Linked DNA regions of Homo sapiens. The protein of the gene in region 1 purifies or fractionates together with the protein of each later gene. This does not show direct contact. Each region holds a gene or a part of one and is shown in the gene's direction. Other genes may lie near its edges.

Region 1 (7,029 bases):
AAGATGATCTGTGCATGGGAGGCTGTTGGCAGTGAACATTCATTTATTCACTTGGCAATTATTTACTGAGTACCTGCCCTGGACCAGGCCTTTGGAACCCAATAGAGGCTGGGAAGACAAGGTCCTGCCCTGTGGTTCTTACAGGGAGTGGGAAACAGATAAAAACCAAGGGTTCCAAGGGAAGCCTGCAGGGACTGACTTGGGGACTCAAGCAGGAAAGCAGGAATGCTTTCCAGACTAGGTGGTTAGGAACAGCTGAGGAGCAAAATTAGAGCTGAGACCTCAAAGTGGAAGCCTGGCCTCCGTGTCATGAGAAGGGGTGGAGGTGGCAGCCATCAGGAAGGAAGGGGGCTGGGGAGAGGGCTGCAGGTATCCTTCAGTAGTGAGTGTGATGCCTCTTGATCTGGTGTCAGTCCCTAAGGATATGGGCTGTCCCCCTAAGATGATACATGGACACTCAGAATGTCACTGAGGGACCACTGGAGATCGTGCAGGCTGAGACTAGGGAGGATGGGGTGCCCCTGAGGTTCCCCAGTATGCCTGGCAATGGTAGGATTCTGCCCACTGCTCCTCGCAGGCTCTGATGGCTGGCCTTGGGCTTAGGAGCATGTTGCTCTGACAAGTAGGGCTGTGGATGGCCCATCATGGCCTGGTTGGAGCTGCTGTTAAACCAGGGTTGCCATATGGGCCCCACAGGCTCCAGATTGCTGCCAGGGAGCAACTGCCAGCCAGCAAGCAGGCCCAGGGTGCAGCACAGGCAGAATGAGGCCAGGGCCTGAGAGGTCTCCTGGGTGGAGGTAAGGCAGGATGCCAGTGTTTTCCCTTGGCACCCATGCAGTGGGTAAGCAGATGGAGGCACCCTTAAGGGCAGAATGGGGCCTAGAAACTGCCCTCGTTACTTTCAGTGAAAGGTTTTGTCCTTGGAACTTGAGAACGCTCTCTTACTCTTTGTTCTAGAGGAACATTCAGAAGGCCTGGGTGGATGCCCCTCTTGCCAAAATCAGAGGTAGGAAGCTCGTAGGACAAAGGCAGCGGAGGGCAGAAGATAGCTCCTGGGGACCGGAGACAGGCCCAGAGGTGCTCACTGAGTGCTGCTTCCTCTCCCCGATGCCAGCCTCAAGCAGGGCCGTGGGTACAAGGAGGAGCAAATCTGCACCAGGCTTTCTGCCTTACCCAGGAAGGAAAAGTGCTTGGTACAGGCAGACCAGGATCAGTGGTGGGGGAGGTTCCTGGAGGAGAGGGGGCTGCACCTGCTGGACAGTGAGGGGTAGGGAAGATTTGGAAAGGAAGGTGTGGGGGTGGCTGTTAGCTGAGGAAGAGGGGAAAAGGCATGGAAATTGCGTAAAGGTTCTGGCCTTTTCTGTAGATCCTTCTGAATCCCAGGGTCTCAGGGGAGGGAGGAGGGCTTGGGGCAAGGGCTGAGAGGTGGGGACCACAGGGGCTGGGGCTGGGGCTGGATCCACTTGCTCAGGGTGGCAGGGGCTAGGCCAGAAGACCCCAGAGTTCCTGTCACAGCCTACCCACAGGAGAGCAAGGGAGCACCCCTACATGCAACCCTGGACAGGAGGGGAGAGTGAGGATTGATACCCTAGTTTCTTTTCAGGTTTTGGGGGTCCTGCAGGAGGAGCTCTGGGCCAGGCTGGAAATCAAACCAGATTCAAGCTGTGAATGGGGCACAAAGAATGTGGGAGGATTTGGGGTAAACCACAGGGCTGTGCTTTCCCCGAGGCAGAGGTAGTCATGCTCCTGGTAGTCAGAAACTGCCAGTTTAGGGAAGAGCAGGATGATGGCAGAAGTCCCTGGATTCCCCGCCCAAGGTGGTCCCCCAAGTCTTACCCACTTCCTCCCTCTCCTCAGGGCATTGTACAGGGTTTCTTACTCTGGCCTAGAGGTCCTAGATGTTTTCTCAGGCTGCCTAGGCCCTCATCTTCAAGGTTGTACAATGGGGGACCGGACCTAGGGGCCTTCTTAGGTTCCTCTTGCATCAGAGTTTTTGGGAGTTGACCTGGGCTGATGCCTAGGGGCTCCAGTCCCCCACCCCTACCTTAGTCCACTGGGGGCCGTCAGCCTCCCATAGGAACTCCGGAGACCACCAGCTCAGGGCCTTGCCTAGAGCCACTGCTCTACACGCTACAGAGTCTGGCCACTGCCTGTCTCTGGTTCTTTTTACATGTTGTAGAGACGGGGTGTCAGTATGTTGCCCAGGCTGGACTTGAACTCCTGGGCTCAAGAGATCCTCCTGCCTCAGCCTCTTGAGTAACTGGGACTACAGGCATGTGCTACCTTACCGGGTCCCTTTACTTTTTGCCTGCATGTGGCTTTGAGCCTGGGAAGAGTTGAGGGGAGGGAATGTGCTGAAGTTTTCCCTTTCTTCTTCAGCCCTGGGGAGCCACAGGCAGGTGCTGAGTGGCTGGAGCTACAGTTAGTATTGGCAGCCCAGCCAATAGGTGGGGCCCACCAGTCCCCAGGCCGGGCCTAACTGTGTGGGCTCCCAGGCTGGAGGGAGCCTCTTGAGTCCCCAGACTCAGTCTGGGCACTGTCTGCAGCTAACAATGTCAAAAGGAGGCATGGGGCCAGTGTGGTGGCTCACGCCTGTAATCCCAGCACTTTGGGAGGCCGAGGCGGGTGGATCACAAGGTCAGGAGTTCAAGACCAGCCTGGCCAACATGGTAAAACCCCATCTCTACTAAAAATACAAAAATTAGCCGGGTGTGGTGGTGCACACCTGTAATCCTAGCTACTCAGGAGGCTTAGGCAGGAGAATCACTTGAACCTTGGAGGCGAAGGTTGCAGTGAGCCGAGATTGTGCCACTGCACTCCAGCCTGGGTGACAGAGCAAGACTCTGTCTCAAAAAAAAAAAAAGAGGCATGAAGGTGAAGGGGGAGTGGTGTATGTGTCATTAGGACGGGGACCCACGGGTCTCTTGTTCATCAGCCTCAGCATGTCCCCATCCAGAAGGGCTGCTGGGTTCCTCAGGGCCTCCTCTCCTTGCCATTTGATGCTGCTCCTTCTCTTGCAGGTTTTGTACATCAGGAAGAAGAAGAGGTAATTCCCCACCCAAACCCAAATCCCACCCAAAACTTGAGGCCATGGGGAGTGCTGGGCTGGGCTCCGAAGGAAGTGGGTGAAAAGCTGATCAGGGAGTCAAGGCCTGTCCTGCCCATTCATGGTTGGGGGTGACCACTTTCCTTTGGGGAGGGTTGAGGGCCCCCCTTGCACAAGGATCTCACACACAGGGCAGGCAGGTGTGAGGATTCTAGATAACTGGGTATAATCCTGGGACTGGGGATGGCAGGGAGGGGGAAGGCTGGGATTACTCCCACCCAACTGCCCAGCCACCCTTGCCCTGCTGCTCTGAGCTGACTGCTACTGGCTCCCCAGTCCCACCTGAGACTCAGACGCTGTGGATTACAGCAAGGCCCTAGCCTAGGTGATCTCTGTGGGGCCCATGGATGACAGCTACTTGGCGTATGGCCTTACCCTGGAGTGGGTAACTGCTGCCTCCCTGGCTACCCATTTAAGGGGTTGAGCTGGTACTATAGGTGCAAAAATGTCTGTCATTTTTTCCCATTTCAAGGGAAACCTTAAGGCCCTAAGCATGGTTGTGTGCTGTGGCTCAGCTAGTCAGGAGGCAGGGCCTGGAGGGCTGCTGGGAGGGGAAGGGCCTGCCCTGTCCCCAGCAGCCTTTGCCCCCATCCCCAGGCTGGAGAAGCTACGCCACCAGCTCATGCCCATGTACAACTTCGACCCCACGGAGGAACAAGATGAGTTGGAGCAGGAGCTGCTGGAGCATGGGCGGGACGCCGCCTCTGTACAGGCTGCTACTTCTGTGCAGGCCATGCAGGGCAAGGTGGGCACTGACCAGGCTCCCCACCCCGCCTGCAGCATCCTCTGTCCTCCACCCTCACCCTCCCTCCTTTCTCATGCAGCTTTCTAGCACCTGCCTTGTGGTCAGATGGCAGGTATTGGGTATACGGCTTTTTCCAGATTTGTTCAGAAAGTGGTCATATTGCTCTGGGGCCACCCACAAACTCACAGCGCAAGGCCAGGCCAAGGCAGTCCTGGGATACAGCCTGGCTCTGCCCCATAGCCTGCTGATCTTGGGAGCCCCACTGGCATCTCTGAGCCTCAGTGTTCTCTTCCACAATTGAAAATCCTAATTCTTGCCCCATGTGCCCCCACGTACTGGTTAGGAAAGTAGGAAAGGACTAATGGGAGAGACTGTTGGCGGCTAGGACCCCAGGTTCCTCTGCTTCCTGAGGGTCCGTGGTCCTGAGTGGGTTGTGGATGGGGTTAGACTCTTGGACAGCGGTACCTCTGAGTAGGCTGGTGGATTCCCAGTGGCTGACAGACCCAGGCATGTGAAGATCTCAGCCAAACTTGCCTCCTGTGTCCAAAGGGATAGGTACCTGTGTGGCCATCCTGTTGTAACCACTGGGCTGCCTGACCACTTGCCACCATTTCCCCAAATCCCCAAGGGCCAGAGCACCATGAGCAGGCCTGGCCTGCCCCTGACTTATCCAGCCTCTTTGCGTCTTCTTGGGCTCAGAAAGAATCCAGGCTGGAAGTCTGAAGACCCTTTGGTTTTGCCACCAGCTCTGCATCACCTGGGTCAAGATATATTGCCCCCTTGGGATATTCAGGAACTCGCACTGAGAACCTTGGTCCACCCAGCCACTGGGACTTCTGGCCACTTGATACTTGTTTCCCATGTTCCTCCTTGTACCAGCCCCTGTGCTAGGGCCTGGGGATACAGAGTCCAGCCCTCTGATCCCCCACTGGGAAAAGGCAGTGCATGCATAATTAAATCAACACAGTAAGTGCCTCCAAGGTGACAGGGCAAGCTGGGGAGGAGTCATCTGAGCCAAGTCATATTTGTAGGCTGAGCTTGCAGGGAGGGCATTCCAGGCAGAAGCCATTGCTAGTGCCAAGCATAAGCAGGCACCAGGAAGTGAGGGTGGAGGTGACCAGGCCAGTGAGTGCATGGCCTTGCCCATGGTCTCTGATGCCCCTGCCTGTCTTCCTGCAGACTACTCTGCCCTCCCAGGGCCCACTGCAGAGACCCAGCCGGCTGGTGTTTACCGATGTGGCCAATGCCATCCATGCGTGAGTGGCCTGGGACAAGCCTGGACTTCTGATAGAGACCCATCACGGTGCCTACAGAGCTCCCCACTCCCTGATTGTCAAGACCTACTCTGAAGATCTTCCCTGCCAAGACACAAGAGGGCTGAGCCAGGTCCTAGCTGTTCTCCAGACCCACCTGCTGACTTTAGACTCTAAGAGAGGGCCCTAGCCAGGCTGGACTTCTGACCACTGACTTCTCCTGACCTGAGGGCCCTGGCACAGAGGGCATCCCTCATGCTGAGAAGGTCAAGAGCCTCTGCTGGCTTCCTCATCCCCTGTCCAGATCCCTCACATCAGGGTCTGCCCCGCTAATGTGGAGGAAATGAGGGAGATACGGAGTGGGAGGGATTGGGGGAGGAAAGGGGAGGTTTCCCTCTGTTAGGGAGAGACCTGTTTTTTGGAATCTGGAGCCTCCTCTGGGGTGGGGAGAGGAAACCACCCAAGTTATAGGGACAGGGTAGGGCAGCATCTGTTATGGGCCCTGAGAAGCCCAGAGATGGAGCTGAAACTGTCCAGTATGCAAGGATGCCAGGAGAAGGGCAATTCACACCCAGGGTCCATCCATACTACGGAGGGTCCAGGAGGTCTCCCAGCCACCCATCCTTGGCAACCAGATGTTACTGGGGCCAAGCTAGGATGGGAGCTGAGGGGGAAGGAAGTAGGGGAATGGAAGTGGAAGGATGCAGCCCCCCCAGACCTGCCGAGAGGCCTCATGCATGTGCATGAGTGTGCCCATGGGCAGACATGTGCCTGTCCCAGCACAGCGGGCAGAATGAGATTGTCCACACTGGCCCCACCCTCCAAGTCGACCTCTACCCCATGGTATGTAGTGGAGCATCAGGGTAGGCTATCTTCTCTGCCTTCAATCTTCAGGGACTGCAGGGAAGAGGGAAGCACGCACAGCACGGTTCCTCTCTCCACTGCATTGTTTCACTGGGCTCACCTGCTTCTGAAAACGGCTCCCTGTCTTGGGCTCTAATGAGGATCTGGGGTTGGGAGAGGCTGTTGGTCTGAGGGCAGTAATCACAGGCTGCAGGCTAGAGGGGGCAGTTATGACTGCCTGAAAGTGGGTGAGGGATTGCACTTCAGAAAAACATCTAAAAAACTTAGTCTATGTTTGAATTCCCCACCTCCATCCCATCTATGGGAAGAGCCGTTCAGTGTTTAGAGAGTGGGGAGATGGGTCCCTGCACTTGGCCTCTCCATAAGCCTTGGAGGGTCAGGGCTGATACCAGGGGTCCTGGCAAGCCATTGGGCAGAGACAGACCACAAGAGCAGGGCATTTTTTTACGCTGGGCATACATATGCACACAAGCATGCACAGAGGCATGTCCCGTGCCCAGCCTCTCCACCGTCACTGTCCGCTGCTGGCTGGAGGGGATGCAGGGGTAGTGTATGCAGACCTTCCACTGGGCAAATGCCATGTGTCAGGAGGGAAAGGCCTAGGAAGCCCCCATGGGGAAGGTTCTGGATTTATTCCCTCCTCTAAATGCTATAAATACGTTAGCACTTGAGTCGACTGGAGGCTGCCAGGAATTCAGGATGCATACAGCTGTAATTTAACCCAGAGCAGCTCCACGTGAGAGCATTAAAGATGTAATGAAGATGTTTACATGGAGAGTGTGTGAGCCTGTGACGCTTGGGGTGTGGAACCCTAGGAGGGGCAGGATGGGTGAGGGGCTGTGGGGGGCCTGGGGATAGTTGCTTGGATCACAGCTATGAGGTGGCACCCCAGGTTTCTCTTGAGCCGTCTGAGGAAATGCCTCTGGCCCTGACTTCGAGGTTGCCCTGGGGCTTCATTTCCCAACTGTGGATTGGGGTCCCAAGGCCTGTCACCCCCTAGGGTGGAAAGGTCAACTGGACAGGACCTTGTGAGACCGGAGGAGGAAGGGGGCTTGAGCCCC
Region 2 (7,029 bases), on another chromosome or scaffold:
AGCCACCACACCCGGCCATCAGTTTTCACATAAGATCATAAATTGTGTGTTGCTCAGTATCCAGAAATTGTCTCCCTTTGGCCAATATGTAGAGTGAATTCTGTGTTTAGTTTTCTGTGAGTGCTTTGTTTGCGCCTTTTTTTTTTTTTTTTTTTTTTTTGAGACGGAGTCTTGCTCTGTCACCCAGGCTGGAGTGCAGTGGCACAATCTTGACTCACTGCAGCCTCCGCCTCCCGGGTTCAAGCGATTCTGCCTCAGCCTCTTGAGTAGCTGGGATTACAAGCACGTGCCACCACGCCTGGCTAATTTTTTTGTATTTTTGGTAGAGACGGGGTTTCACCATTTTAGCCAGGATAGTCTCAATCTCCTGACCTCGTGATCTGCCCGCCTCAGCCTCCCAAAGTGCTGGGATTACAGGCATGAGCCACCGTGCCGGCCTGTTTGTGTCTTTAATGCGGAGACCAAGAGTCTTTTATACCAAAGTAAGTGCCTCAGGGTATTTACAGCAAAAGTGATTTGAAAGCATGGAAATTATCCATCACCAGAGAGAGTAAAGTAAATTCTGAGCACCTCTGTGGAAACTTAGGTGGGTATGTAGATAGAATGTTTTAGGAATGTGTGAGGTGCTATGATCTCTTGCTTGCAGGAATTCTCAGCAAGGCATCAAAAATTTAATCTTTATATTGATAGGACATATTTTGAATACCTTCTGACTTTTTCCTTTGCTTTTATTTGAATTTCTAGTGTGGAGCTAGTCTGCTGTTTTAGGGATTCTTTAAAAACAACCTAAAGAAGGGCTAATTTTAGATAGATTTGGACCGGTTTCAGATGCTAATCAAGAAATCTGTCATCTTATCGCCCATCACTCTCTCCTTTGGGCTGCCTGTGACACACCTCTCCATTCTTTAACCAAGACCCGTCTGATGCCTTTGCCCATGCTCTAGAATGCTCTCCTTAGAATTTTACATAGCTAGCTCCTCACTTTCTACTCTGTTTCAATTTCACTTTTTCAGCCAGAACATCCTGTTGACTCTATCCAGAATAAGCCCTGTGAACCTATTGAATAATTTATTTTAAAATCAGTGACTTTTAAATTTAAATTCTTTTTGGAGACAGAGTCTCAATCGCCTAGGCTGGGGTGTAGTGGCACAGTCACAGTTCACTGCAGCCTCAATCTCTTGGGCTCAAGTGATCCTCTTGCCTCAGCCTCCTGAGTAGCTAGGACCACAGACATGCGTTACCACACTGGGCTAATTAAATTTTTTACAGAGACAAGGTCTCACTGTGTTGCCCAGTCTGGTCTGGAACTCCTGGGCTCAAGTGATCCTCCTGCCTTGTGGATCCTGCCAAAGTGTTGGGACTTACAGGGGTGAGCCACTGTGCCCCAGCCCAGTGATTTTTTAAAATAAAAATCTGGATACAAAATGATCTGGAGAGAGAGGTTATAACTGGGTATGTTAGGGTTTTTCTGCAACTTCTGATTCTTTTAAAACAGGCATGATTTGCTGTAACTTTTAAAAAAGGGCCAGGTGTGGTGGCTCACATCTATAGTCCCAGCACTTTGGGAGGCCGAGGCAGATGGATCACTTGAGGTCAGGAGTGTGGGACCAGCCTCGCCAACATGATGAAACCCTGTCTGTACTAAAAATACAAAAATTATCTGGGTGTGGTGGTGGGTGCCTGTAATCCCAGCTACTGGGGAGGCTGATGCAGAAGAATTGCTTGAACCCGGGAGATGGAGGTTGCAGTGAGCTGGGATCGTGCCTCTGTACTCCAGCCTGGGCAGTAGAGTGAGACTACCTCTCAAAAAAGAAAAAAGAAAAAAAAAAGAAACTTCTGAAAAGTAGACATACGAGTTTAAAGAACCTTTAGGAATTTAGTTCTTAGTGATTCTGTGGGTCTTTTATGTTATCACTGTTATTCTCAAAGTGAGAGCTCATTTAGCATCATTCAGTAGAGGGAGATTACACATAAAAACGAAGAGGCATTGTCTTCCTTCCTTTTCTTTTTCTTTTCTTTTCTTTTCTTTTCTTTTTTTTTGAGATGGAGTTTCTCTTGTTGCCCAGGCTAGAGTGCAATGGTGCCATCTCGGCTCACTGCAACCTTCGCCTCCTGGGTTCAAACAGTTCTCCTGCCTCAGCCTCTCAAGTAGCTGGGATTACAGGCATGCGCCACCACGCCTGGCTAATTTTGTATTTTTAGTGGAGTTGGGGTTTCTGCATGTTGGTCAGGCTGGTCTTGAACTCCTGACCTCAGGTGATCCGCCCGCCTTGGCCTCCTAAAGTGCTGGGATTGCCACTGTGAACCACCGCGCCTGGCTCCTTCCCTCCTTTTTGAGATAGACTCATACATGCAGAGAATGGACTGAAGAGAGAATATCTTTACTGGGAATGGATTATGTGATTTTGTGTCTGCTTTTTTGTGGCCTTTTGCTTTAAAAAAAAAAAAAAAAGGATGAGTTCAAGCCTGGGCAACGTAGTGAGACCCCTCTTCCCCAAAAACCATAAAAAAAATTAGTTGGGTGTGATGGTGTGAGCCTGTAGTCCTAGCTACTCAGGAGGCTAAGGCAGGAGGATCACTTAAGCCCAGGAGTTTGAGACTGCAGTGAGTTATCATGGCCACGGCACTCCAGCCTTGACAACAGGGCAAGACCCTGTTTCTTACCAAAAAACAAAACAATAGGATGACTGAATGCAGAGGTGAGAGACACTACTGAGAATTTTCTAACTTGTTCCCATGGAATCAGCACTTAAAGCAGTAACAAAATGATTTTTGTTTAAATGGAGACTTTTGACACTTCTTGTCTTTGGAAGTGTATGAACATGGGACCCGTAAGACTCATGGGCAGGAAAATAGGTATTGACATTCATTGTTCTTGTTTTAGTGTTCTCATTCATTCATAATTTTTTTTTTTTTTGAGACAGAGTCTCACTCTGTCACCCAGGCTGGAGTGCAGTGGCACTATCCCAGCTCATTGCAACCTCTGCCTCCCAGGTTCAAGCAATTCTCCTGCCTCAGCTGCCTGAGTAGCTGGGATTACAGGTGTGCACCACTACACCCGGCTAATTTTTGTATTTTCAGTAGAGACAGGGTTTCACCATGTTGGCCAGGGTGGTGTAAAACTCCTGACCTCAAGTGATTCATCTGCCTCAACCTCCCAAAGTGCTGGGATTACAGGCGTGAGCCACCACACTTGGCCCACACTTGATATTTTATTTTTTAATTTTATTTATTTTTGAGACTGAGTTTCACGCTCTGTTGCCCAGGCTGGGGTGCAGAGGCACGATCTTGGCTTACTGCAACCTCTGCCTTCTGGATTCAAGCAGTTCTTCTGTCTCAGCCTTCTGAGTAGCTGGGATTATAGGCATGAGCCACCATGCCCAGCTACTTTTTGTATTTTTAGTAGAGATGGGGTTTCACCATGTTAGCCAGGCTGGTCTTGAACTCCTGACCTTGTTATCTGCCTACCTTGGCCTGCCAAAGTGTTGGGATTACAGGCATGAGCCACCATGCCTGGCCCATTTTTTAAAAAATTTATTTTTGAGACAGAGTCTTGTGCTGTCGCCCAGGCTGGAGTGCAGTGGTGCGATCTCAGATCACTGTAACTCCCACCTTCCAGGTTCAAGCAATTCTCCTGCCTCAGCCTCCCTAGTAGTTTGGGATTACAGGCACGCGCCAGCACGCCCGGCTAATTTTTGTAGTTTTAATAGAGAAGGGGTTTCACCATGTTGTCCAGGCTGGTCTCAAACTCTTGACCTCAGGTGATCCCCCTGCCTCGGCCTCCCAAAGTGCTGGGATTACAAGCGTGAGCCACCGCACCTGGCCTAAAAAACACATATTTTAATATTTTTATAGATCTTTTGATTGATTGATTGAGACGAGATCTCACTCTGTTGCCCAGGCCAGAGTGCAGTGGTGTAATCCCGGCTGACTGCAACCTCTGCCTCCTGGGTTCAAGCGATCCTCCCATCTCAACTTCCGGAATAGCTGGGACTACAGGATCATGCCGCCATGCCTGGCTAATTTTTGTATTTTTTGTAGAAATGGGTTTCCCATGTTGCCCAGGCTGATCTTGAATATTTGGGCTCAGACATTCCTCGCACCTCAGCCTCCCAAAGTGCTGTGATTACAGGTGTGAGCCACTGCACCCAACCTATTTTCTTTTGTTGTTGTTGTTTTTTTTTTTTTTGAGATGGGGTCTTGCTTTGCCACCCATGCTGGAGTGCAGTAGCGCGATCTTGGCTCACTGCAACCTCTGCCTCCCGGGTTCAAGCAGTTCTCCTGCCTCATCCTCCTGAGTAGCTGGGACTACAGGTGCTCACAACCACACCTCGCTAACTTTTGTATTTTTAATAGAGATGGGGTTTTACCATGTTGTCCAGGCTGGTATTGAACTCCTAACCTCAGGTGATCCACCTGCCTTGGCCTCCCAAAGTGCTGGGATTACAGGTGTGAGACACTGTGCCCGGCCAACCTATTTGCTTTTTCTTTTCTTTCTTTTTTTTTTTTTTTTTTGATATGGCATTTCACACTTGTTGCCCAGGCTGGAGCGCAATGGTGCGATCTCAGCTCACTGCAACCTCCGCCTCCCAGATACAAAGGATTCTCCTGCCTCAGCCTCCTGAGTAGCTGGGATTACAGGCATGTGCCACCATGGCCAGCTAATTTTGTATTTGTAGTAAAGATGGGGTTTCTCCATGTTGGTCAGGCTGGTCTCGAACTCCCAACCTCAGGTGATCCGCCGGCCTCGGCCTCCCAAAGTGCTGGGATTATGGGTGTGAGCCACCACGCCCGGCAGCGGCCAACATTTTTTCATATTTTTAAAAATACCATTTTTTTTTTCTGAACTGTTTGTTTTTGTGATTTTTTTTTCCTTTGGTTGGGTTTTTTTTTTTTTCTTTTTTTTAGAGATGAGGTTCAGGCTGGAGTGCAGTTGTGCAATCATGGCCCACAGCAGCCTTGACCTCCAGGGCTCAAGTAGATCCCACTTCCTCAGCCTCTGAGCAGCTGTGACTACAGGCATGCGCCACCATGCCTGGCTAATTTTTAATTTTTTTTGTAGAAACAGGGTCTCGTTATGTTATGCAAGCTGAACTCACTATGTTGCCCAGTCTGGTCTGGAACTCCTGGGCTCAAGTGGATCCTCCTGCCTTGTGGATCCTGCCAAAGTTTTTTTTTTTTTTTTTTTTTTTTTTTTGTTGAGACAGAGTCTGGCTCTGTCGCCAGTCTGGAGTGCAGTGGAGTGTCTTGGCTTGCTGCAACCTCCACCACCTGGGTTCAAGCGATTCTCTTGCTTCAGCCTCCTGAGTAGCTGGGACTACAGGCGCGCGCCATCACACCCAGCTAATTTTTGTATTTTTAGTGGAGATGGGGTTTCACCATGTTGGCCAGGATGGTCTTGATCTCGACCTCAAGTCATCTGCCTGCCCCAGCCTCCCAAAGTGCTAGGATTACAGGTGTGAGCCACTGCGCCTGGCCTTTTTTTTTTTTTTTTTTTTGTAGAGATGGGGTCACACTGTGTTGCCCAGGCTTGTCTTGAACTCCTGGCCTCAAGACATTTTCTTACCTCAGCCTCCCAAAGTGTTGGGATTGTAGGTGTGAGCCACCACACCTGGCCATGGTTAACGATTCGAATAATGTTCACACTGCCCCTAGCCAGAGTAGATAGAGATATGCCCCTGCACCTAGTCATTCAGACACTTTCTGAAATGAACAATCTATGTTTGTTTTCTGGCGGGAGTGGGATGGGAAGGGGTATGGTTGTTGCTTTATGAAATAATAATTTGTTAGTTAATTATTACTTAAGCTCCTAAGACATTTTTTTTTAAAGACAAAGACTAGCTCTGGATTAAGACATCTTTTTTTAAATTTGAGATTTCTGAATGTGAATATCTAAATGAGATACCATTATGTGTCCCTGCTGTAGTGACACTCATATTTTTATTTAGTTAAAAATCACAAAAGAACGCTACGCATGGTGGCTCATGCCTGTAATTTCAGCACTTTGGGAGGCCGAGGTGGTGGATTGCCTGAGGTCAGGAGTTCAAGACCAGCCCTGACCAACATGGTGAAACCCCGTCTCTACTAAAAATACAAAAATTAACTGGGCATGGTGGCGGACGCCTGTAATCCAAGCTACTCCGGAGGCAGAGGAAGGAAAATCACTTGTACCTGGGAGGCGGAGGTTGTAGTGAGCCAATATCTTGCCATTGAACTCCAGCCTGAGCTACAGAGTGAGACTGTGTCTTCAAAAGAAAAAACAAAACAAAAAAAAATCACAAAAGAGGACACCAAACTGGGTATAGTACCAAACTGGTTCAGAGGGTAGATTAGTAGATTGACTATTCACTGGATTGCTGAAGTGTGTGCCATAGGTCACACATCCAGTTCTGTGCTTGAGAGAGTACAGGATTCCTGCTTCTTGAAATCTTTACCTTACCTTTAACTACATGCTGCTTACTTATGTTGTACTGAACTTTGCTTCTCAGGAGAACTGATGTTAGAACCTACCCAAGTTATTTTGCTCTGCTCTGCACTCAATGAATACAGCTGTTATCTAAATAAGTTATTAGGTTGTGGTCAGAAATATCTGCATAGACCAGTTTAATAATGTATGTAATGTTATATATATTTAAAAAGCTGTTATTTGGAAATGGGTATATATAAGTTCTGTTTTTTACTTTGAAATCTTGACCAGTGATATTTGATTATTGCTTTGAACATAGCACTGTGTTTTCTTTTCTTTTTTTTTTTGAGACGGAGTCTTGCTCTGTCACCCTGGCTGGAGTGCAGTGGCGGGATCTCGGCTCACTGCAACCTCCGCCTCCTGGATTCAAGCGATTCTCCTGCCTCAGCCTCCCGTGTAGCTGGGACTACAGGCGCCCGCCACCACACCCGGCTAATTTTTTGTATTTTTAGTAGAGATGGGGTTTCACTGCGTTAGCCAGGATGGTCTCAATCTGACCTCGTGATCTGCCCGCCTCGGCCTCCCAAAGTGGTGGGATTACAGGCATGAGCCACCCACCCGGC
Region 3 (7,029 bases), about 58 Mb from region 1:
TATCTTTAAAGCAAACTTGCTGCTGATGTAATTTTGAAAACTCTTGATTTGATTAACAAACTTAAACCATTGGTTCCTGGTATGGAAGTAAGCTTCTACAAAATACTTCAGGTGAGTTTAAACTCTTCAAACATTGAAGTTTATTCATACATAAATGGTCCTAATATAAGTTTCTGTTTTAATATTCTTAATCTTTAGAAGATAATTCTCTTAGAATTGGCAATGAGAAGAAAGTTTAAAGTTGTTGTCTTAAGCAGTTATAATAGTCTCACTGCACAGTTATTTTATATACTTTCACAGGAATTGAACATAAGTGCTCATGACACTAATGTAGAGAATGTTCACAATAGTGCTGCTTCCTCAGCCTTTTCCTTTCTTGTGTTGTATTTGTATATTTCTTCATTTGTTTCTGTTGGCATTGGAGGAAGAGTGATATTTGTTTTAGGGTTTTTGTTTTTGGTTAGGGTTGATGTAGGGTATTAAGGGGATAGGGAGACAGCTGGAAGAAAAGGATTGTGATAATTAGAAGGGCTGTGCAGAAAATAGCTAACTCACAAATTTCAATGATAATAGTAGCTGAATATGATCTCTAGCTGTTATCAAAAGGCAAAGTACAACAAATTTAGTTCAAAGTTCTAACTGGCTTTTATTTATGATTCTAGAATTTGGCAGCCTCATTCTATAAAATAGAATGAATCATTCCCCTGGGCTAAGCAGAGAAGGTTGACTTTATAGACCAGAAAAGGGCTGAAGAAAGCACAAATAGGGAACTAAAAGCAGATTGGTCATTTCAAAGTTACTTTTCCTATAGAATTATAATAAAGGGGGCTTCCTTATTATACTAACTCAGGTTGACTGAAATCTCCTGGTTTTTTGGAAAACTGGCCCATTTCAAAGTGCAGTTTGATTACATGGCACTCATCCAAGTGACTCCTTTCTGGTTTGATCTGGTCTGCTAAAGCATAGTGGAGGAGACTACTCCAAAATATTAGCCTCTTAAAAACTTTGTGTAATAATATCTACAACACCTACCTTTACAACAGATGTTTAACAAAAATGAGTGAATTAAATTACTGCAGTAGCTTAACAGAGACATCTCTAGTGACTGTATAGACAGTGTAGAAGCCAAAACTGAAACCTTAGGCAGGGACCACTGGCATGTTTTGAGATTAAGGGACTGAGTTCAAATGTTGACTCTACTGGTTCTTAGTACAGGCTTGAGTAAGTTATTTCACCTCTCTCGACTTCAATTTCCTCGACTACAAACTGGAAATAATGAGGCTTACCATTGAGGGTTTTGGAGATAAAGCTCTGCTCTTATCACAGTTCTGTGACACTGGATTATACTCAAGTACCTACAAGGTACTCAATATTTTAATTATAAGGGATTTATATTTTAATATTTTCTTCACTAATATCTCAATGTATTTTTAAAGGAGTCAAACTGATGTTATGTCCATTATTTAAGATGTTTTTCATAATACAGGTTGAGCATCCCTAATTTGAAAATCTGAAATCTGAAATGCTCCAAAAAACAAAACGTTTTAAGTACCAAAATGAGGCTCAAAGGTGATACTCAAAGGAAGTGCTCACTGAAGCATTTTGGGTTTTTGGATTAGGGATGCCCAACCAGTAAGTACATGTAAATATTCTAAAATCTGAAAAAAATCAGAAATTTGAAACACTTCTGGTCCCAGACATTTTAGATATATGTTGATGACTTGGGGCTTACAATACTAATGTAAAATATTTACTGACATAAATGATTGAAGTAACTGTATTTTTTCGATCTTTAAATTTAAATGTTCTAATTTAATTTGAATTTTACTTTTTATTTTATAGCCTTAATTTGGAAGTGATTGGCCATTTTTTTCTTTTAAATGATAGCTTGGAAAAAAACATTAATTCTACACATCAGTCAGTTGTGGGTTTTTTAATCCACGAAAATATATAAGGCATAATTTTTATAGGCACATTTGAAAGCATTCAAAACCTTTGCCAGATTTTTTTAAACTGTTCATATTGATTGCATTGCAGTGTAAACAGCTATAACAAGGTATAATATATTCAAACTATATAGACTATAATATATTCAAACATTAGAAACATTTTAGAATTTGCCTAGAATTAAGATTTACATATATTTACTCACCTCCTATCTAAAAGAGCTGACATTGTTTATTCTTTCTGCTGCTTCTTTTTTGGTTTCTGATTTATTTAGGACCCACGTTTGATTACTCCTTTGGCTTTTGCTTTAACGTCAGATAATAGAGAACAAGTACAGTCTGGACTGAGAATATTATTGGAGGCTGCTCCACTGCCAGATTTTCCTGCTTTAGTGTGAGTTGTAATCATTTGCAGTGTATCTCTTGTGGTGTTGGAATACCCTGCTATGTCTCTTTAGTCCTCAGTATAGATACACAAGCAAATTAGTGAATTGAAGACTTCATTGTAATAGTAATTTTTCAAGTGATTTCTAAAAATGTTTGATTCTTATAAATGAAAAGTTCAGATGTATACTCACTCAGGGAAAAGCTAGATCCAGGCAGTTAAATGTTCTTCAGGTACTATCCCTCTATGTCTCTAGCCACTTCTTTTTAATGATAACTTCTGGACACTCTTAAGCCTACATCCTCCCAGTTTAGTTCCTCCATAGAAAGAGCTTTTCCTTCCTGACTGTTTAAGGAAAAGGTCTAAGCATTAGTCATTGACCAGGCCTGGGTTATCCATGAGAACGATGTGGACTAAAAGTTAGTTGGGATAGGAGAATAGGAGAGTTCCTAAAGAAAAAAATCTGAACTTTTATCAGAAAGTGGAAAAATGACAACCAGGCAAAATTTTCTACTATACTCGTTACTTTCAAGCAATAAGAATATTTGCAATTATGTTTGAAAAAAAATTCAGATTTCAGGGCTCTCTGAACTAAATGTCTATTAGGAGTCTGGTTTAAAATTTTTTTAAGTCATTTATATGTATGAATTTGTAAAAATGGTTTGAATAATTTGAAGTAGTTGATAAACAGGTAAGATATTCCCTGTATACCGGGATCAGCAAACTGGCCAGTGGACAGGCATCTGTTTTTGTAAATAGTTTTATTGGAATATGGCCACACCCACTCATTTTTATACTCTGTCTATGTTGCTTTCACTCTATAAAAGCAGAATTGAGTAATTGTGACAGAGACCAGATAGGTCCTTGAGTCTAAAATACTTACTATCTTGACCTATAAGAAAAAGTGCTGGTCCATGCTATATGCTATTCACTGATTTAGCGATTCCACTTTTCAGAATTAGCAATTTAGGTCATCATACCTTAAGAGTTAAAGTATGGGATGTAAGACCTAGAGAACATATAACCAAAATTCCCTTAATTTTATAATAAATATTTTTTTAACAGCAACAACAAAAATACACAGGAAGCTTTTCAAGTTACAAGTTAAAAGTGGTCTGTAAAGCTGCTCTATTTTGTGATGGCCTGCTTGCATAAACTGGTAATCTGACATGAAACAAAACCTTAAGAGCTTCAAAGGGGAATCTGCAGCCTCACTGAACATGGAAGTCTTATCCTCTGCCTCTGTGTGTGAGGCCTTCCCACCATTTTGACTGTGTCTTGGCATTCCCTGTCTTATTTGTGTTGTAAATAATTTTCTCTTTGGGCATTATCTCAGATGTCCATTTTATGCTTACTATTTAATGCCCTTATTTGACATTATCTTGGGCGTTTAATAAACTGAATGTATATTATGGATGCATTGGTAGGTAGGGTTTTTGTGTGTGTGTATTTACTTGTTTGTTTTCGAGACAGGGTCTCACTCTATCACCCAGACTGGGGTGCAGTGGTGTGATCATGACTCACTGCAGCTTCGACCTCTGGGGCTCAAGTGATATTCCCAACTCAACCCCCTGAGTAGCGGGGACCACAGGCTTGTGCCACCACAACTGCTTAATTAATTTATTTTTTTATAGAGGGGTCTCACCAGGTTGCCCAGGCTTGTCTCGAACTCTTGGACTCAAGTGATCCTCCCAAAGTGCTGCGGTTACAGGTGTGAGCCACCATGCCCAGCCTATAATAAATTAGGCTGAGTGCCTGCCATCTTGCAGTTTGCACTTTAGTTAAGAGATAAGTGAAAAAAATATTTTGTTTTGTGGTAGAAAGCGTGTTCCAGATAAAGGAACAGCTCATATGAAGGCCTGAGGTAGGAGAAAGAGAGGATTTTAAAGGGTTAGAATGGAAGTCAGGTTGGTGAAAAGTATGTACTGAGTGAGAAAGGAAAAGGACTAAGGACGTAAAGGCCAGGTGATATCACCCATGATAAGAACATTATTCTGACCAGTACCAATAACTTTGTACTTATTACAGATAATCCACACTCATAAACTAGTCTTACAATGCCTCCAAACCAGAGGTGAAGCTGTCATTATAAAAGGTTAGAAACAGAAAAGTGGGTGCTCTGGAAAATTCAGAATATTTCCCAAGACTTCATTTCATCATGGTCTCCAAGATTATTTGAAGACTTCTATTCAAAAAAAGGACCCATTCTTAAAAATTCCCTAATTCTGCACTAAGTCTGCCTTTTCTTCTATTTTCGTATAATTTTTTTTTCCTTTCTTTGACTCCCATTCAGACTTGGAGAAAGTATAGCAGCAAACAATGCCTATAGACAACAGGAAACAGAACATATACCCAGAAAAATGCCCTGGCAATCATCAAATCACAGTTTTCCAACATCAATAAAGTGTTTAACTCCTCATTTGAAAGATGGTGTTCCTGGATTGAATATTGAAGAATTAATAGAGAAACTTCAGTCTGGAATGGTGGTGAGTGAAAAAATAGCAATTATAACCTGGTACATATTAGCTATATGTCAGTCCCAATTATAACGTGTATCTAAACACTGTCAGGTACAGATTTCACTATTGAAACCTTAATATAAGAAATAACAATATTCTGGAAAATTTGGAAATAAGAAAAATCAGTCAAAATTTCAACATTTTGCCGGGTGCGGTGGCTTACGCCTGTAATCCCAGCATTTTGGGAGGCCAAGGAGGGTAGATTGCCAGAGCTGAGGAGTTCAAGACCAGCTTGGGCAATATGGCGAAACCCCGTCTCTATTAAAAATACAAAAAATTAGCTGGACGTGTTGGCTCATGCCTGTTGTCTCAGCTACTCTGAAGGCTGAGGCAGGAGAATCACTTGAACCCAGGAGGCAGAGGTTGCAGTGAGCCAAGATCATACCACTTCACTCCAACCTGGGTGACAGTGAGACCCATCTCAAAAAAAAAAAAGAAATATTTGTGACTTACCTGATGTAGCATTTGTTTTTATTTTGTTACTCATCATTAAGTTTTAATGATTTAGTTTTGAAGTAGGCATTTATTTTGTCATTGTGTCAAAATATTTTATTAAAATTTTAAGTTTTTTTACTCTTAAAATGTAGGTAAAGGATCAGATTTGTGATGTGAGAATATCTGACATAATGGATGTATATGAAATGAAACTATCCACATTAGCTGTGAGTATAAGCTTATTTTAACAATGTGTAATAAGCTTTAATAGATGTATTCCTAAAATGAAAATTAATGATATGTTTTCTTGTAGTCCAAAGAAAGCAGGCTACAAGATCTTTTGGAAACAAAAGCTCTAGCCCTTGCACAGGCTGATAGACTGATTGCTCAGCATCGCTGTCAAAGAACTCAAGCTGAAACAGAGGTGTGTAGAATATAAAGACACATCTGATTTGTAGAAAAATTAATAAGTAAAACATGCAAAATATTAGTTATGTATTTGTTACTCTAATTGAAGTAAATTCTCCTTAGCATTTGACATGCCTCCTTCCTTCTTCCTGAAATTCTGTCCTCTTTAATTTTGGTTACATCGTTACCTGATTTTTTTTTGCTACCTTGTATTATTTTCCTATGTTATTTATTTTGTACCTTTAAGTGTTGGGGACTCTGGGACTTATATTCTAAACCTTTTTCCTTTAGTTATGTGTTCTGTGGTTTCAATGGTTACCAAAATAGTAATGTTCCTAATTTTATATGTCAAGCACAGATCATTTTCCTGAGCACTATGTGCCTATGTTGCTCCATTTAAATATACAGCAAATACCACAAACTCAGCATAACCAATAATGAACTAATCACCCTTCCCTTTTTAAAATTATTCTTATGTATTCCCTCTTCTGTTTTTAGTGTTCTACAAATAAGAACCCTGGAAATCACAGTTTTTACCTCCTATAATTATTCACCAAGTCCAGTTGATTCTACCTTCTAAATATTACTCTTTTCTGCCCTATCTCTGCTTCTACCACTATTTGTTATAGGCTGGATCCTTTTCATTTTTTGTATGAATCATAGCAGAGCAATTAGTCTTCCTACCTGTAGTCTTCTACCCTCTTCTCAGATACTCTACAGCCAGTCATCTTTCCTTGGTTCTACCCCCTTCACCTAGCCGCTCCCCCAAGGATCTCTAAGGCAGTAAAATGATCCTGTCCCTCTTGTGCTGAGTATCTTTCACAGTAGCTGCTATTGCTTTCAAATATCATTAAAATTCTTTAGTTTGGCATATAAGGATTCTAACTATATAGGCCTCAATCCACATCTTTCATTTCTGCGCATTCTTTGCAGTCAGCCATGTTAGGCCACTTTGCTTTTTCTGAAACTTGACATATTCTCGTATTTCCTTGTCGTGGCACTTGACTTTCCATGTCTGGAACACCATTTCCTCTCTTCTGCCTAACTCATAATCCTTCAGATTTCAGTTAAAATATCCTCATTACCCAGAAGCCTACTCTGGTCTCCTTCCCACACGTGTTTGACGATCCTTCCTCTGTGTATCAAACCTACGCTTATCTCTTAATAACATTTTTCAAACCACGTGGAAATTCTTTTTTCCCTCACTCATGGTATCAAAGACTGCTTCTATAGCTCCAGGCCCTAGCATAGCACTTGGCACATAATAGGTGCTCAGTAAATTTGGCATTGTATTATGTACATATATAATGTATACCTTAAGAGTGAACTTACTGCA
Region 4 (6,043 bases), on another chromosome or scaffold:
TCCTGTGTTTTGTCTACCAATGTCCATTTTCTTTTCACAGATGAAAAGTATCTCTCTCGCCTCTTGCCATCAATTGCATTCCAAATTCTTGGATCAGTCTCTAGGAGAACAGGTAAGAATTGTAGTTCTCCCAGTTTAAAAGAAGGGGCCGGCTGGGCATGGTGGCTCGCGCCTGTAATCCCAGCACTTTGAGAGGCCGAGGCGGCCAGATCACCCCGAGGTCAGGAGTTCGAGATGAGCCTGGCCAACATGGCGAAACCCCATCTCTACTAAAAATACAAAAAAATTAGCAGGGCATGGTTGCGGGTGCCTGTAATCCGAGCTACTTGGGAGGCTGAGGCAGGGAGAATTGCTTGAACGTGGGAGGCGGAGGATGCAGTAAGCCGAAATCACGCCACTGCACTCCATCCTAGGTGACAGAGCGAGACTCCGTCTCAGAAATAAAGAAGGGGCCTATTCTATCAACAGTCTAAGCTTACATTTGTTATTTTGTTTTGTTTTGAACCTATCTTAATGCTTGGGGGATTAGATGAAATACAGACATACACTCAAATATATGTTCAAATACACATATGTCTTGTCAACACTGGGTCTGTATTGGGATTACTCTTTGCTCCATTTAAAATTCCCAATAAGGGTCTGGGTGCGGTGACTCACGCCTATAATCCCAGCACTTTGGGAGGCCGAGGCAGGTGCATCACTTGAGGCCAGGAGTTCAAGACCATCTTGGCCAATATGGTGAAACTTCATCTCTACTAAAAAGACAAAAATTAGCTGGGCATGGTGGCGCATGCCTGTAGTCCCAGCTACACAGGAGGCTGAGGCAAGAGACTCACTTGAACTGGGGAGGCAGAGGTTGCACTAAGCCAAAATCACCACACTGCACTCCAGCCTGGGCAACAGAGCTAGACTCTGTATCAAAAAAAAAAAAAAAAAAGAGAGAGAAATAGTTATTTCTATGTAGAATGGCGGAAGGAATTTAATGGAGGTAGAGATGAAAGCTGTTGTTAAAAATGTAAAATGGGGCTGGTGTGGTGACTCTCACCTGTAACATCAGCACTTCAGGAGGCCGAGATGAGCAGATCTCTCGAGGCCAGGAGTTCAAGACCAGCCTGGCCAACATGGCGAAACCCTGTCTCTACTAAAAATACAAAAATTAGCTGAGCACGGTAGCCTGTAGTCCCAGTTGCTGGGGTGGCTGAGGCATAAGAATTGCTTGAACCCAGAGGCAGAGGTTTCACTGAGCCGAGATCGCACCACTGCACTCCAGCCTGGGTAACAAAGTGAGACTCTGTCTCAAAAAATACCCAAAAAACAAAACAAAACAAAACAAAAAATGTAAATGGAGGGCCTAGAAGGAAATTGTTTCCTTATTCTGTGTGACTTTAAAGGGTAGAACTAGTCCAGATAGATCAAAGTTACATGGAAATGGGTTTGGATGCCCTATGAGGAAGAACTTAAGAATGATCTAGGCCAGGCACGGTGGCTCACACCTGTAATCGCATCACTTTGGGAAGCTGAAGCAGGCAGATCACCTGAGGTCAGGAGTTTGAGACCAGCCTGGCCAACATGGCGAAACCCCGTCTCTACTAAAAGTATAAAAATTAGCCAGGCATGGTGGTGCACGCCTGTAATCCCAGCTTCTCAGGAGGCTGAGGCATGAGAATCATTTAAACCTGGGAGGGGGATGTCACAGTGAGCCGAGATTGCACCACTGCCCTCAGCCTGGGTAACAGAGTGAGGCTCTGTCTTTAAAAAAAAAAAAAAAAGGAATATCTAAAAATGGAGCCTTCATCATTTAATAGTTGTTAAATAGTTGTAATACCTAGTTTGTTTTTGTTTTCTAATTGTAGAATACCTATTTTAGCTTATGCTCTACTAAGCCTTATTTATTTCAAAATCAATGTCCAATTTCTTCCCCCACCCCGTTTTTTTTTAAAGGTTGTTAAGAATTTGTTGTTCGCAGCCAAAGTCTTGTATTTACTGGAACTTTATTGTGAGGATAAGCAAAGTAAGATAAAAGAAGACCTGGAAGAACAAGAAGCTTTAGAAGATGGTGTGGCCTGTGCAGATGAGAAGGCGGAGTCTGACGGAGAAGAGAAGGAAGAGGTGAAGGAAGAGCTCGGCAGGCCGGCCACGCTGCTGTGGTTGATCCAGAAGCTGTCCCGGATTGCAAAACTGGAAGCTGCTTATTCGCCGAGAAACCCCTTAAAGGTGCGATGAATGCACAGAATGACTGACAGTAGTCATTTCTCTTTAAAAAGTATTTTAATGATATTAGTGATCCTCCTAAGTCCCTAGAAACTTTATCTTTGAACCCCAAACTGCAGCAATAACATCCGTCCCAAAATAGACTGAGCCCTGTTTTCTCAATTAATGCTGTGTCTATGATTGAGTGCTAAAGAGAAGTCTTTCAAATGAAAAAAATGATCTGTACTTTCAGAGAACATGCATCTTTAAGTTCCTCGGCGCCGTAGCAATGGATCTTGGGATAGACAAGGTAAAGCCGTATCTCCCAATGATCATAGCTCCTTTGTTTCGGGAACTCAACAGCACCTATTCAGAGCAAGGTAACCCTGCCTCGTCTGTTCTCCTGCCTTTTGCACATGAGGATTTCTAACTTCTCTCCTGAATGTTTCCTTCTTCCTTTCTGTCCTCCCTCCCTGCCTGAGATTTATTTTTATTTATATATATATTTTAATTATATATTATATACTTATATATGTTTATATTTATATATATACACACACACACACACACATACATTTAAAAAAGAGAGAGAGATGAATAGTGGTCTATGTTATGCCAGGCTGGTCTTGGTCTCAAACTCCTGGCTTCAAGCAGTCTTCCAACCTCAGCCTCCCAAAGTGTTGAGACTATAGAAGTGAGCTACTGTACCCAGCCAGAGTTTATTTTTAAAAAGAAAACTTATATCAAGATAATTAACAAATAGGCATATTTGTATTATATTTGATTGCCCTCTTCTGTATGCTTTCTGCTGTCCCAGAAAGAATGTTTCTCACATAAAAGATGATGCTTTATCCTCAACATAGATTAAATAGTCAAAGAAAACTATGGTTCAGGGTAGTTTTAAACCTCATAGCACAATGAATAATAATGAATAATAAAATGTCATTACATTCTCATCTTAAAAATTATAGGCTGGGCGTAGTGGCTCACGCCTGTAATCCCACACTTTGGGAAGCCAAGTTGGGAGGATCACTTGAGCCCAGAAGTTCAAGACCAGCCTGGGCAACATGGCAAAACCCCATCTCTACAAAAGATACAAAAATTAGCTGGGTGTGGTGGTGCACAACTATAATTGCAGCTACTTAGGAGGCTGAGGTGGGGGGATCTCTTGAGGCTGTGAGGTCGAGGCTTCAGTGAGCCGTGATTGCACCACTGCACTCCTGCTTGGGCAACAGAGTGAGATACTGTCTCAAAAGAAAGATTATATGGCAAAAATATAAGTATTATCATTTTTATATGAAATAGTTTTAAAATATCATTTTAACATTTCTTCTTTTTCCTTGCCTGATACATTTCCCTCACTTATTCTAATTGTTGGTAATAACAGGTAAAGAGGGAACTGGGGGCAGGAAGGAAAGGAGGTAAAGTGAATGTTCAGAGTTTGAAAATAAAACAAATGAAGCAAATGTCAAAGCAAGAGCTTTTACAGTCCTACAACCTTGGGAGAAAGTTTCCTCACTCTTACAAAGGAAAAAGCAATGGTAAAGGTTGAGGCTGCTGACAAAAGCAGGTTCAGGTGTGCTTTGGTTCAACCCAGTCAACATTTAATGAGCATCTAATATCTGCCAGGCACTAGGGATTCAACAGCAGGAAAGTTTTCAAGAAGCTTGTGATCTAGAACAGATGTCCTGAGCTCCTGTGAAATTGAAATTGGGGGTTATTTGTATATAGGGGTGAGTGGCAGAGAAGGGTGGGAGAAATGGCTTTTTTGTCAACTTCACAAAGGAGGCTTTTGACACTCCCCCGCCAAAAAAAAAAAAAAAAAAGTTACTGTGGGCAGAGCTAAGCCTCTGTGACCCATCATGGATTAGAGAGGGAATCTCTTACTTTTCCCCCCATCTGCAAGAGCTCAACAGGTAAACAGAGGTAATTCAAAACGTTTCTGTCAAGGTCCCAAGTTACTTTAATGTCTTCAGGGCCAGGTTTCCGCTGGGAAGTGGGCCTCATGTTCTCTGATTTCTTATTGCATCCTGGGTGAGGTGGTGGCTGGAGTGCTATGTCTAGCATTGCTGGTTTCCCCATCCCAGGAACATAGAGGCTAGTTTTATATCAGTGTTTAATGTTGAAGTAACAGTGATAATGCTGCAAGAGTTGAAATTTTGTTTTGTTTTATTTGGGGTTTCTTGCCAGATCAGTAGCTGGATATAAATGTTGTACATATTGTTGATTTTGTTGATGTTCAAATGTGTCCTTTCCTACCTGTCTCTGATCATTACTCTTTGTGTGTGATTAGATCCTTTGCTGAAGAATCTATCCCAGGAAATCATAGAATTACTCAAAAAGCTGGTTGGGCTTGAGAGCTTCTCATTAGCCTTTGCCTCTGTACAGAAACAGGCTAATGAGAAAAGGGCACTCCGGAAAAAGAGGAAGGCCCTGGAGGTAAGTTTGCTCTTTGAAAATATGGCATGTTCACTGGACTTGATAACTACTAAGTGTGCATGTTTGTGTCACACTTACACTTAGGGAGGATCAAGGGTTTGAGCGGTTGGGGACTTTATAGCTGGGACTTCAGATTTTCTTTAATGAGCATGTGTTTTTTACATTTATTTCTGTATTTGATTCTTATTGGTTTAACATTTACTTTAAAAGTAATATAAAATTTCTATTCTCTTTTCCAGTTTGTAACTAATCCTGATATTGCTGCCAAGAAAAAAATGAAGAAACACAAAAATAAAAGTGAAGCAAAGAAGAGAAAGATAGAGTTCCTGCGTCCAGGATATAAGGCCAAGAGACAAAAAAGCCATAGCCTGAAAGATTTAGCAATGGTGGAGTAATGTCTCCCTGTGCTGATACAAGCATGAACTTTCTGGAATATTCTGCTAGTCTGAAATTACAGTAGGTTGTCTGGGGTAGGGGGGAGGCGTTTTTTTTTTTTTTTGAGACAAGGTCTCACTCTGTCACCCAAGGTGGAGTGCAGTGACGACATCACAGCTCACTGCAGCCTCAACCTGGGTTCAAGTGATCCTCTCACCTCAGCCTCCCAAGTAGTTGTGCCTCCTAGGCACACAACACTATGCCCGGCAAATTTTTTGTATTTTGTATTTTTTGTAGAAACAGGATTTCGCCATGTTGGCCAGGCTGGTCTCGAACACCTGGGCTCAACTGATCCGCCTGCCTCGGCCTCCCAAAGTGCTGGGATTACAGGTGTGAGCCACCCTGCTCAACCAGGTTTTATTATTTAAGTTAGTTAAACTTTGGATAGATTGTATAATATATAGTTTAATGTAATCATGCTCATATTTTTTAAATAAATAAAACACTATACTACTGCTGGGTCTTCACTGTTTAAAAAGCATGTGACACTAGTCAGAGTTTAAAATATAATTTGTAAATAAAAGGATACATTTTTAAATAGCAAGAAAAAATGTAGAAGTTAGCAATTAATCAAACAAAAGATTTGCAAATACTGCTCTATAGTACTTGCTAAAATTTTAGGAAAAGGCAGTAAGAAAGATCTGCACAAACGGAACTATAACCATGTTCTTGGCTAGGAAGATTCAGGATCATAAAACGCTACTTCTTTTTCCCAAGTTGATCCTTTGGTTAAATGTGTATCTGAGCAAAATCCCAAGAGTTCTTCACGTTAACCCAACAAGCTAATTCTAAAATGTATATGGAAGATGATATTAAGCCAAGAATAACCATGACACTCTCACAAAAGTAGAACAGGATGAGGGGCTTGCCCTATTGGATATCAAAAGTAAGACACAAAAACTATCTATAGAGAGAACGTGTAATAAATCCTACTTCATTAAGAACTTCTGCTTAGGAAAAAACACAAACTGGGACATGG

The links.
Region 2: the proteins of C3orf18 (region 1) and SPAG9 purify together in Homo sapiens (co-immunoprecipitation; 2 studies listed by BioGRID and IntAct, with this or other methods). This does not show direct contact.
Region 3: the proteins of C3orf18 (region 1) and CIP2A purify together in Homo sapiens (co-immunoprecipitation; 2 studies listed by BioGRID and IntAct, with this or other methods). This does not show direct contact.
Region 4: the proteins of C3orf18 (region 1) and UTP20 purify together in Homo sapiens (co-immunoprecipitation; 2 studies listed by BioGRID and IntAct, with this or other methods). This does not show direct contact.

Annotation. Positions count from the first base shown.
Region 1 is NC_000003.12:50,557,739-50,564,767, reverse strand, and holds the end of C3orf18 (uncharacterized protein C3orf18), read left to right. Parts: intron 1-3,020; coding exon 3,021-3,046; intron 3,047-3,703; coding exon 3,704-3,851; intron 3,852-5,030; coding exon 5,031-5,111; 3' UTR 5,112-5,621; coding exon of another isoform or gene 5,622-6,104; 3' UTR 6,105-6,743; downstream 6,744-7,029.
Region 2 is NC_000017.11:51,110,840-51,117,868, reverse strand, and holds part of SPAG9 (C-Jun-amino-terminal kinase-interacting protein 4), read left to right. Parts: intron 1-7,029. UniProt on the Homo sapiens protein: The JNK-interacting protein (JIP) group of scaffold proteins selectively mediates JNK signaling by aggregating specific components of the MAPK cascade to form a functional JNK signaling module.
Region 3 is NC_000003.12:108,558,437-108,565,465, reverse strand, and holds part of CIP2A (protein CIP2A), read left to right. Parts: intron 1-11; coding exon 12-111; intron 112-2,221; coding exon 2,222-2,340; intron 2,341-4,624; coding exon 4,625-4,817; intron 4,818-5,437; coding exon 5,438-5,512; intron 5,513-5,598; coding exon 5,599-5,709; intron 5,710-7,029.
Region 4 is NC_000012.12:101,381,100-101,387,142, forward strand, and holds the end of UTP20 (small subunit processome component 20 homolog), read left to right. Parts: intron 1-40; coding exon 41-112; intron 113-1,941; coding exon 1,942-2,214; intron 2,215-2,443; coding exon 2,444-2,570; intron 2,571-4,483; coding exon 4,484-4,629; intron 4,630-4,868; coding exon 4,869-5,024; 3' UTR 5,025-5,519; downstream 5,520-6,043. UniProt on the Homo sapiens protein: Part of the small subunit (SSU) processome, first precursor of the small eukaryotic ribosomal subunit.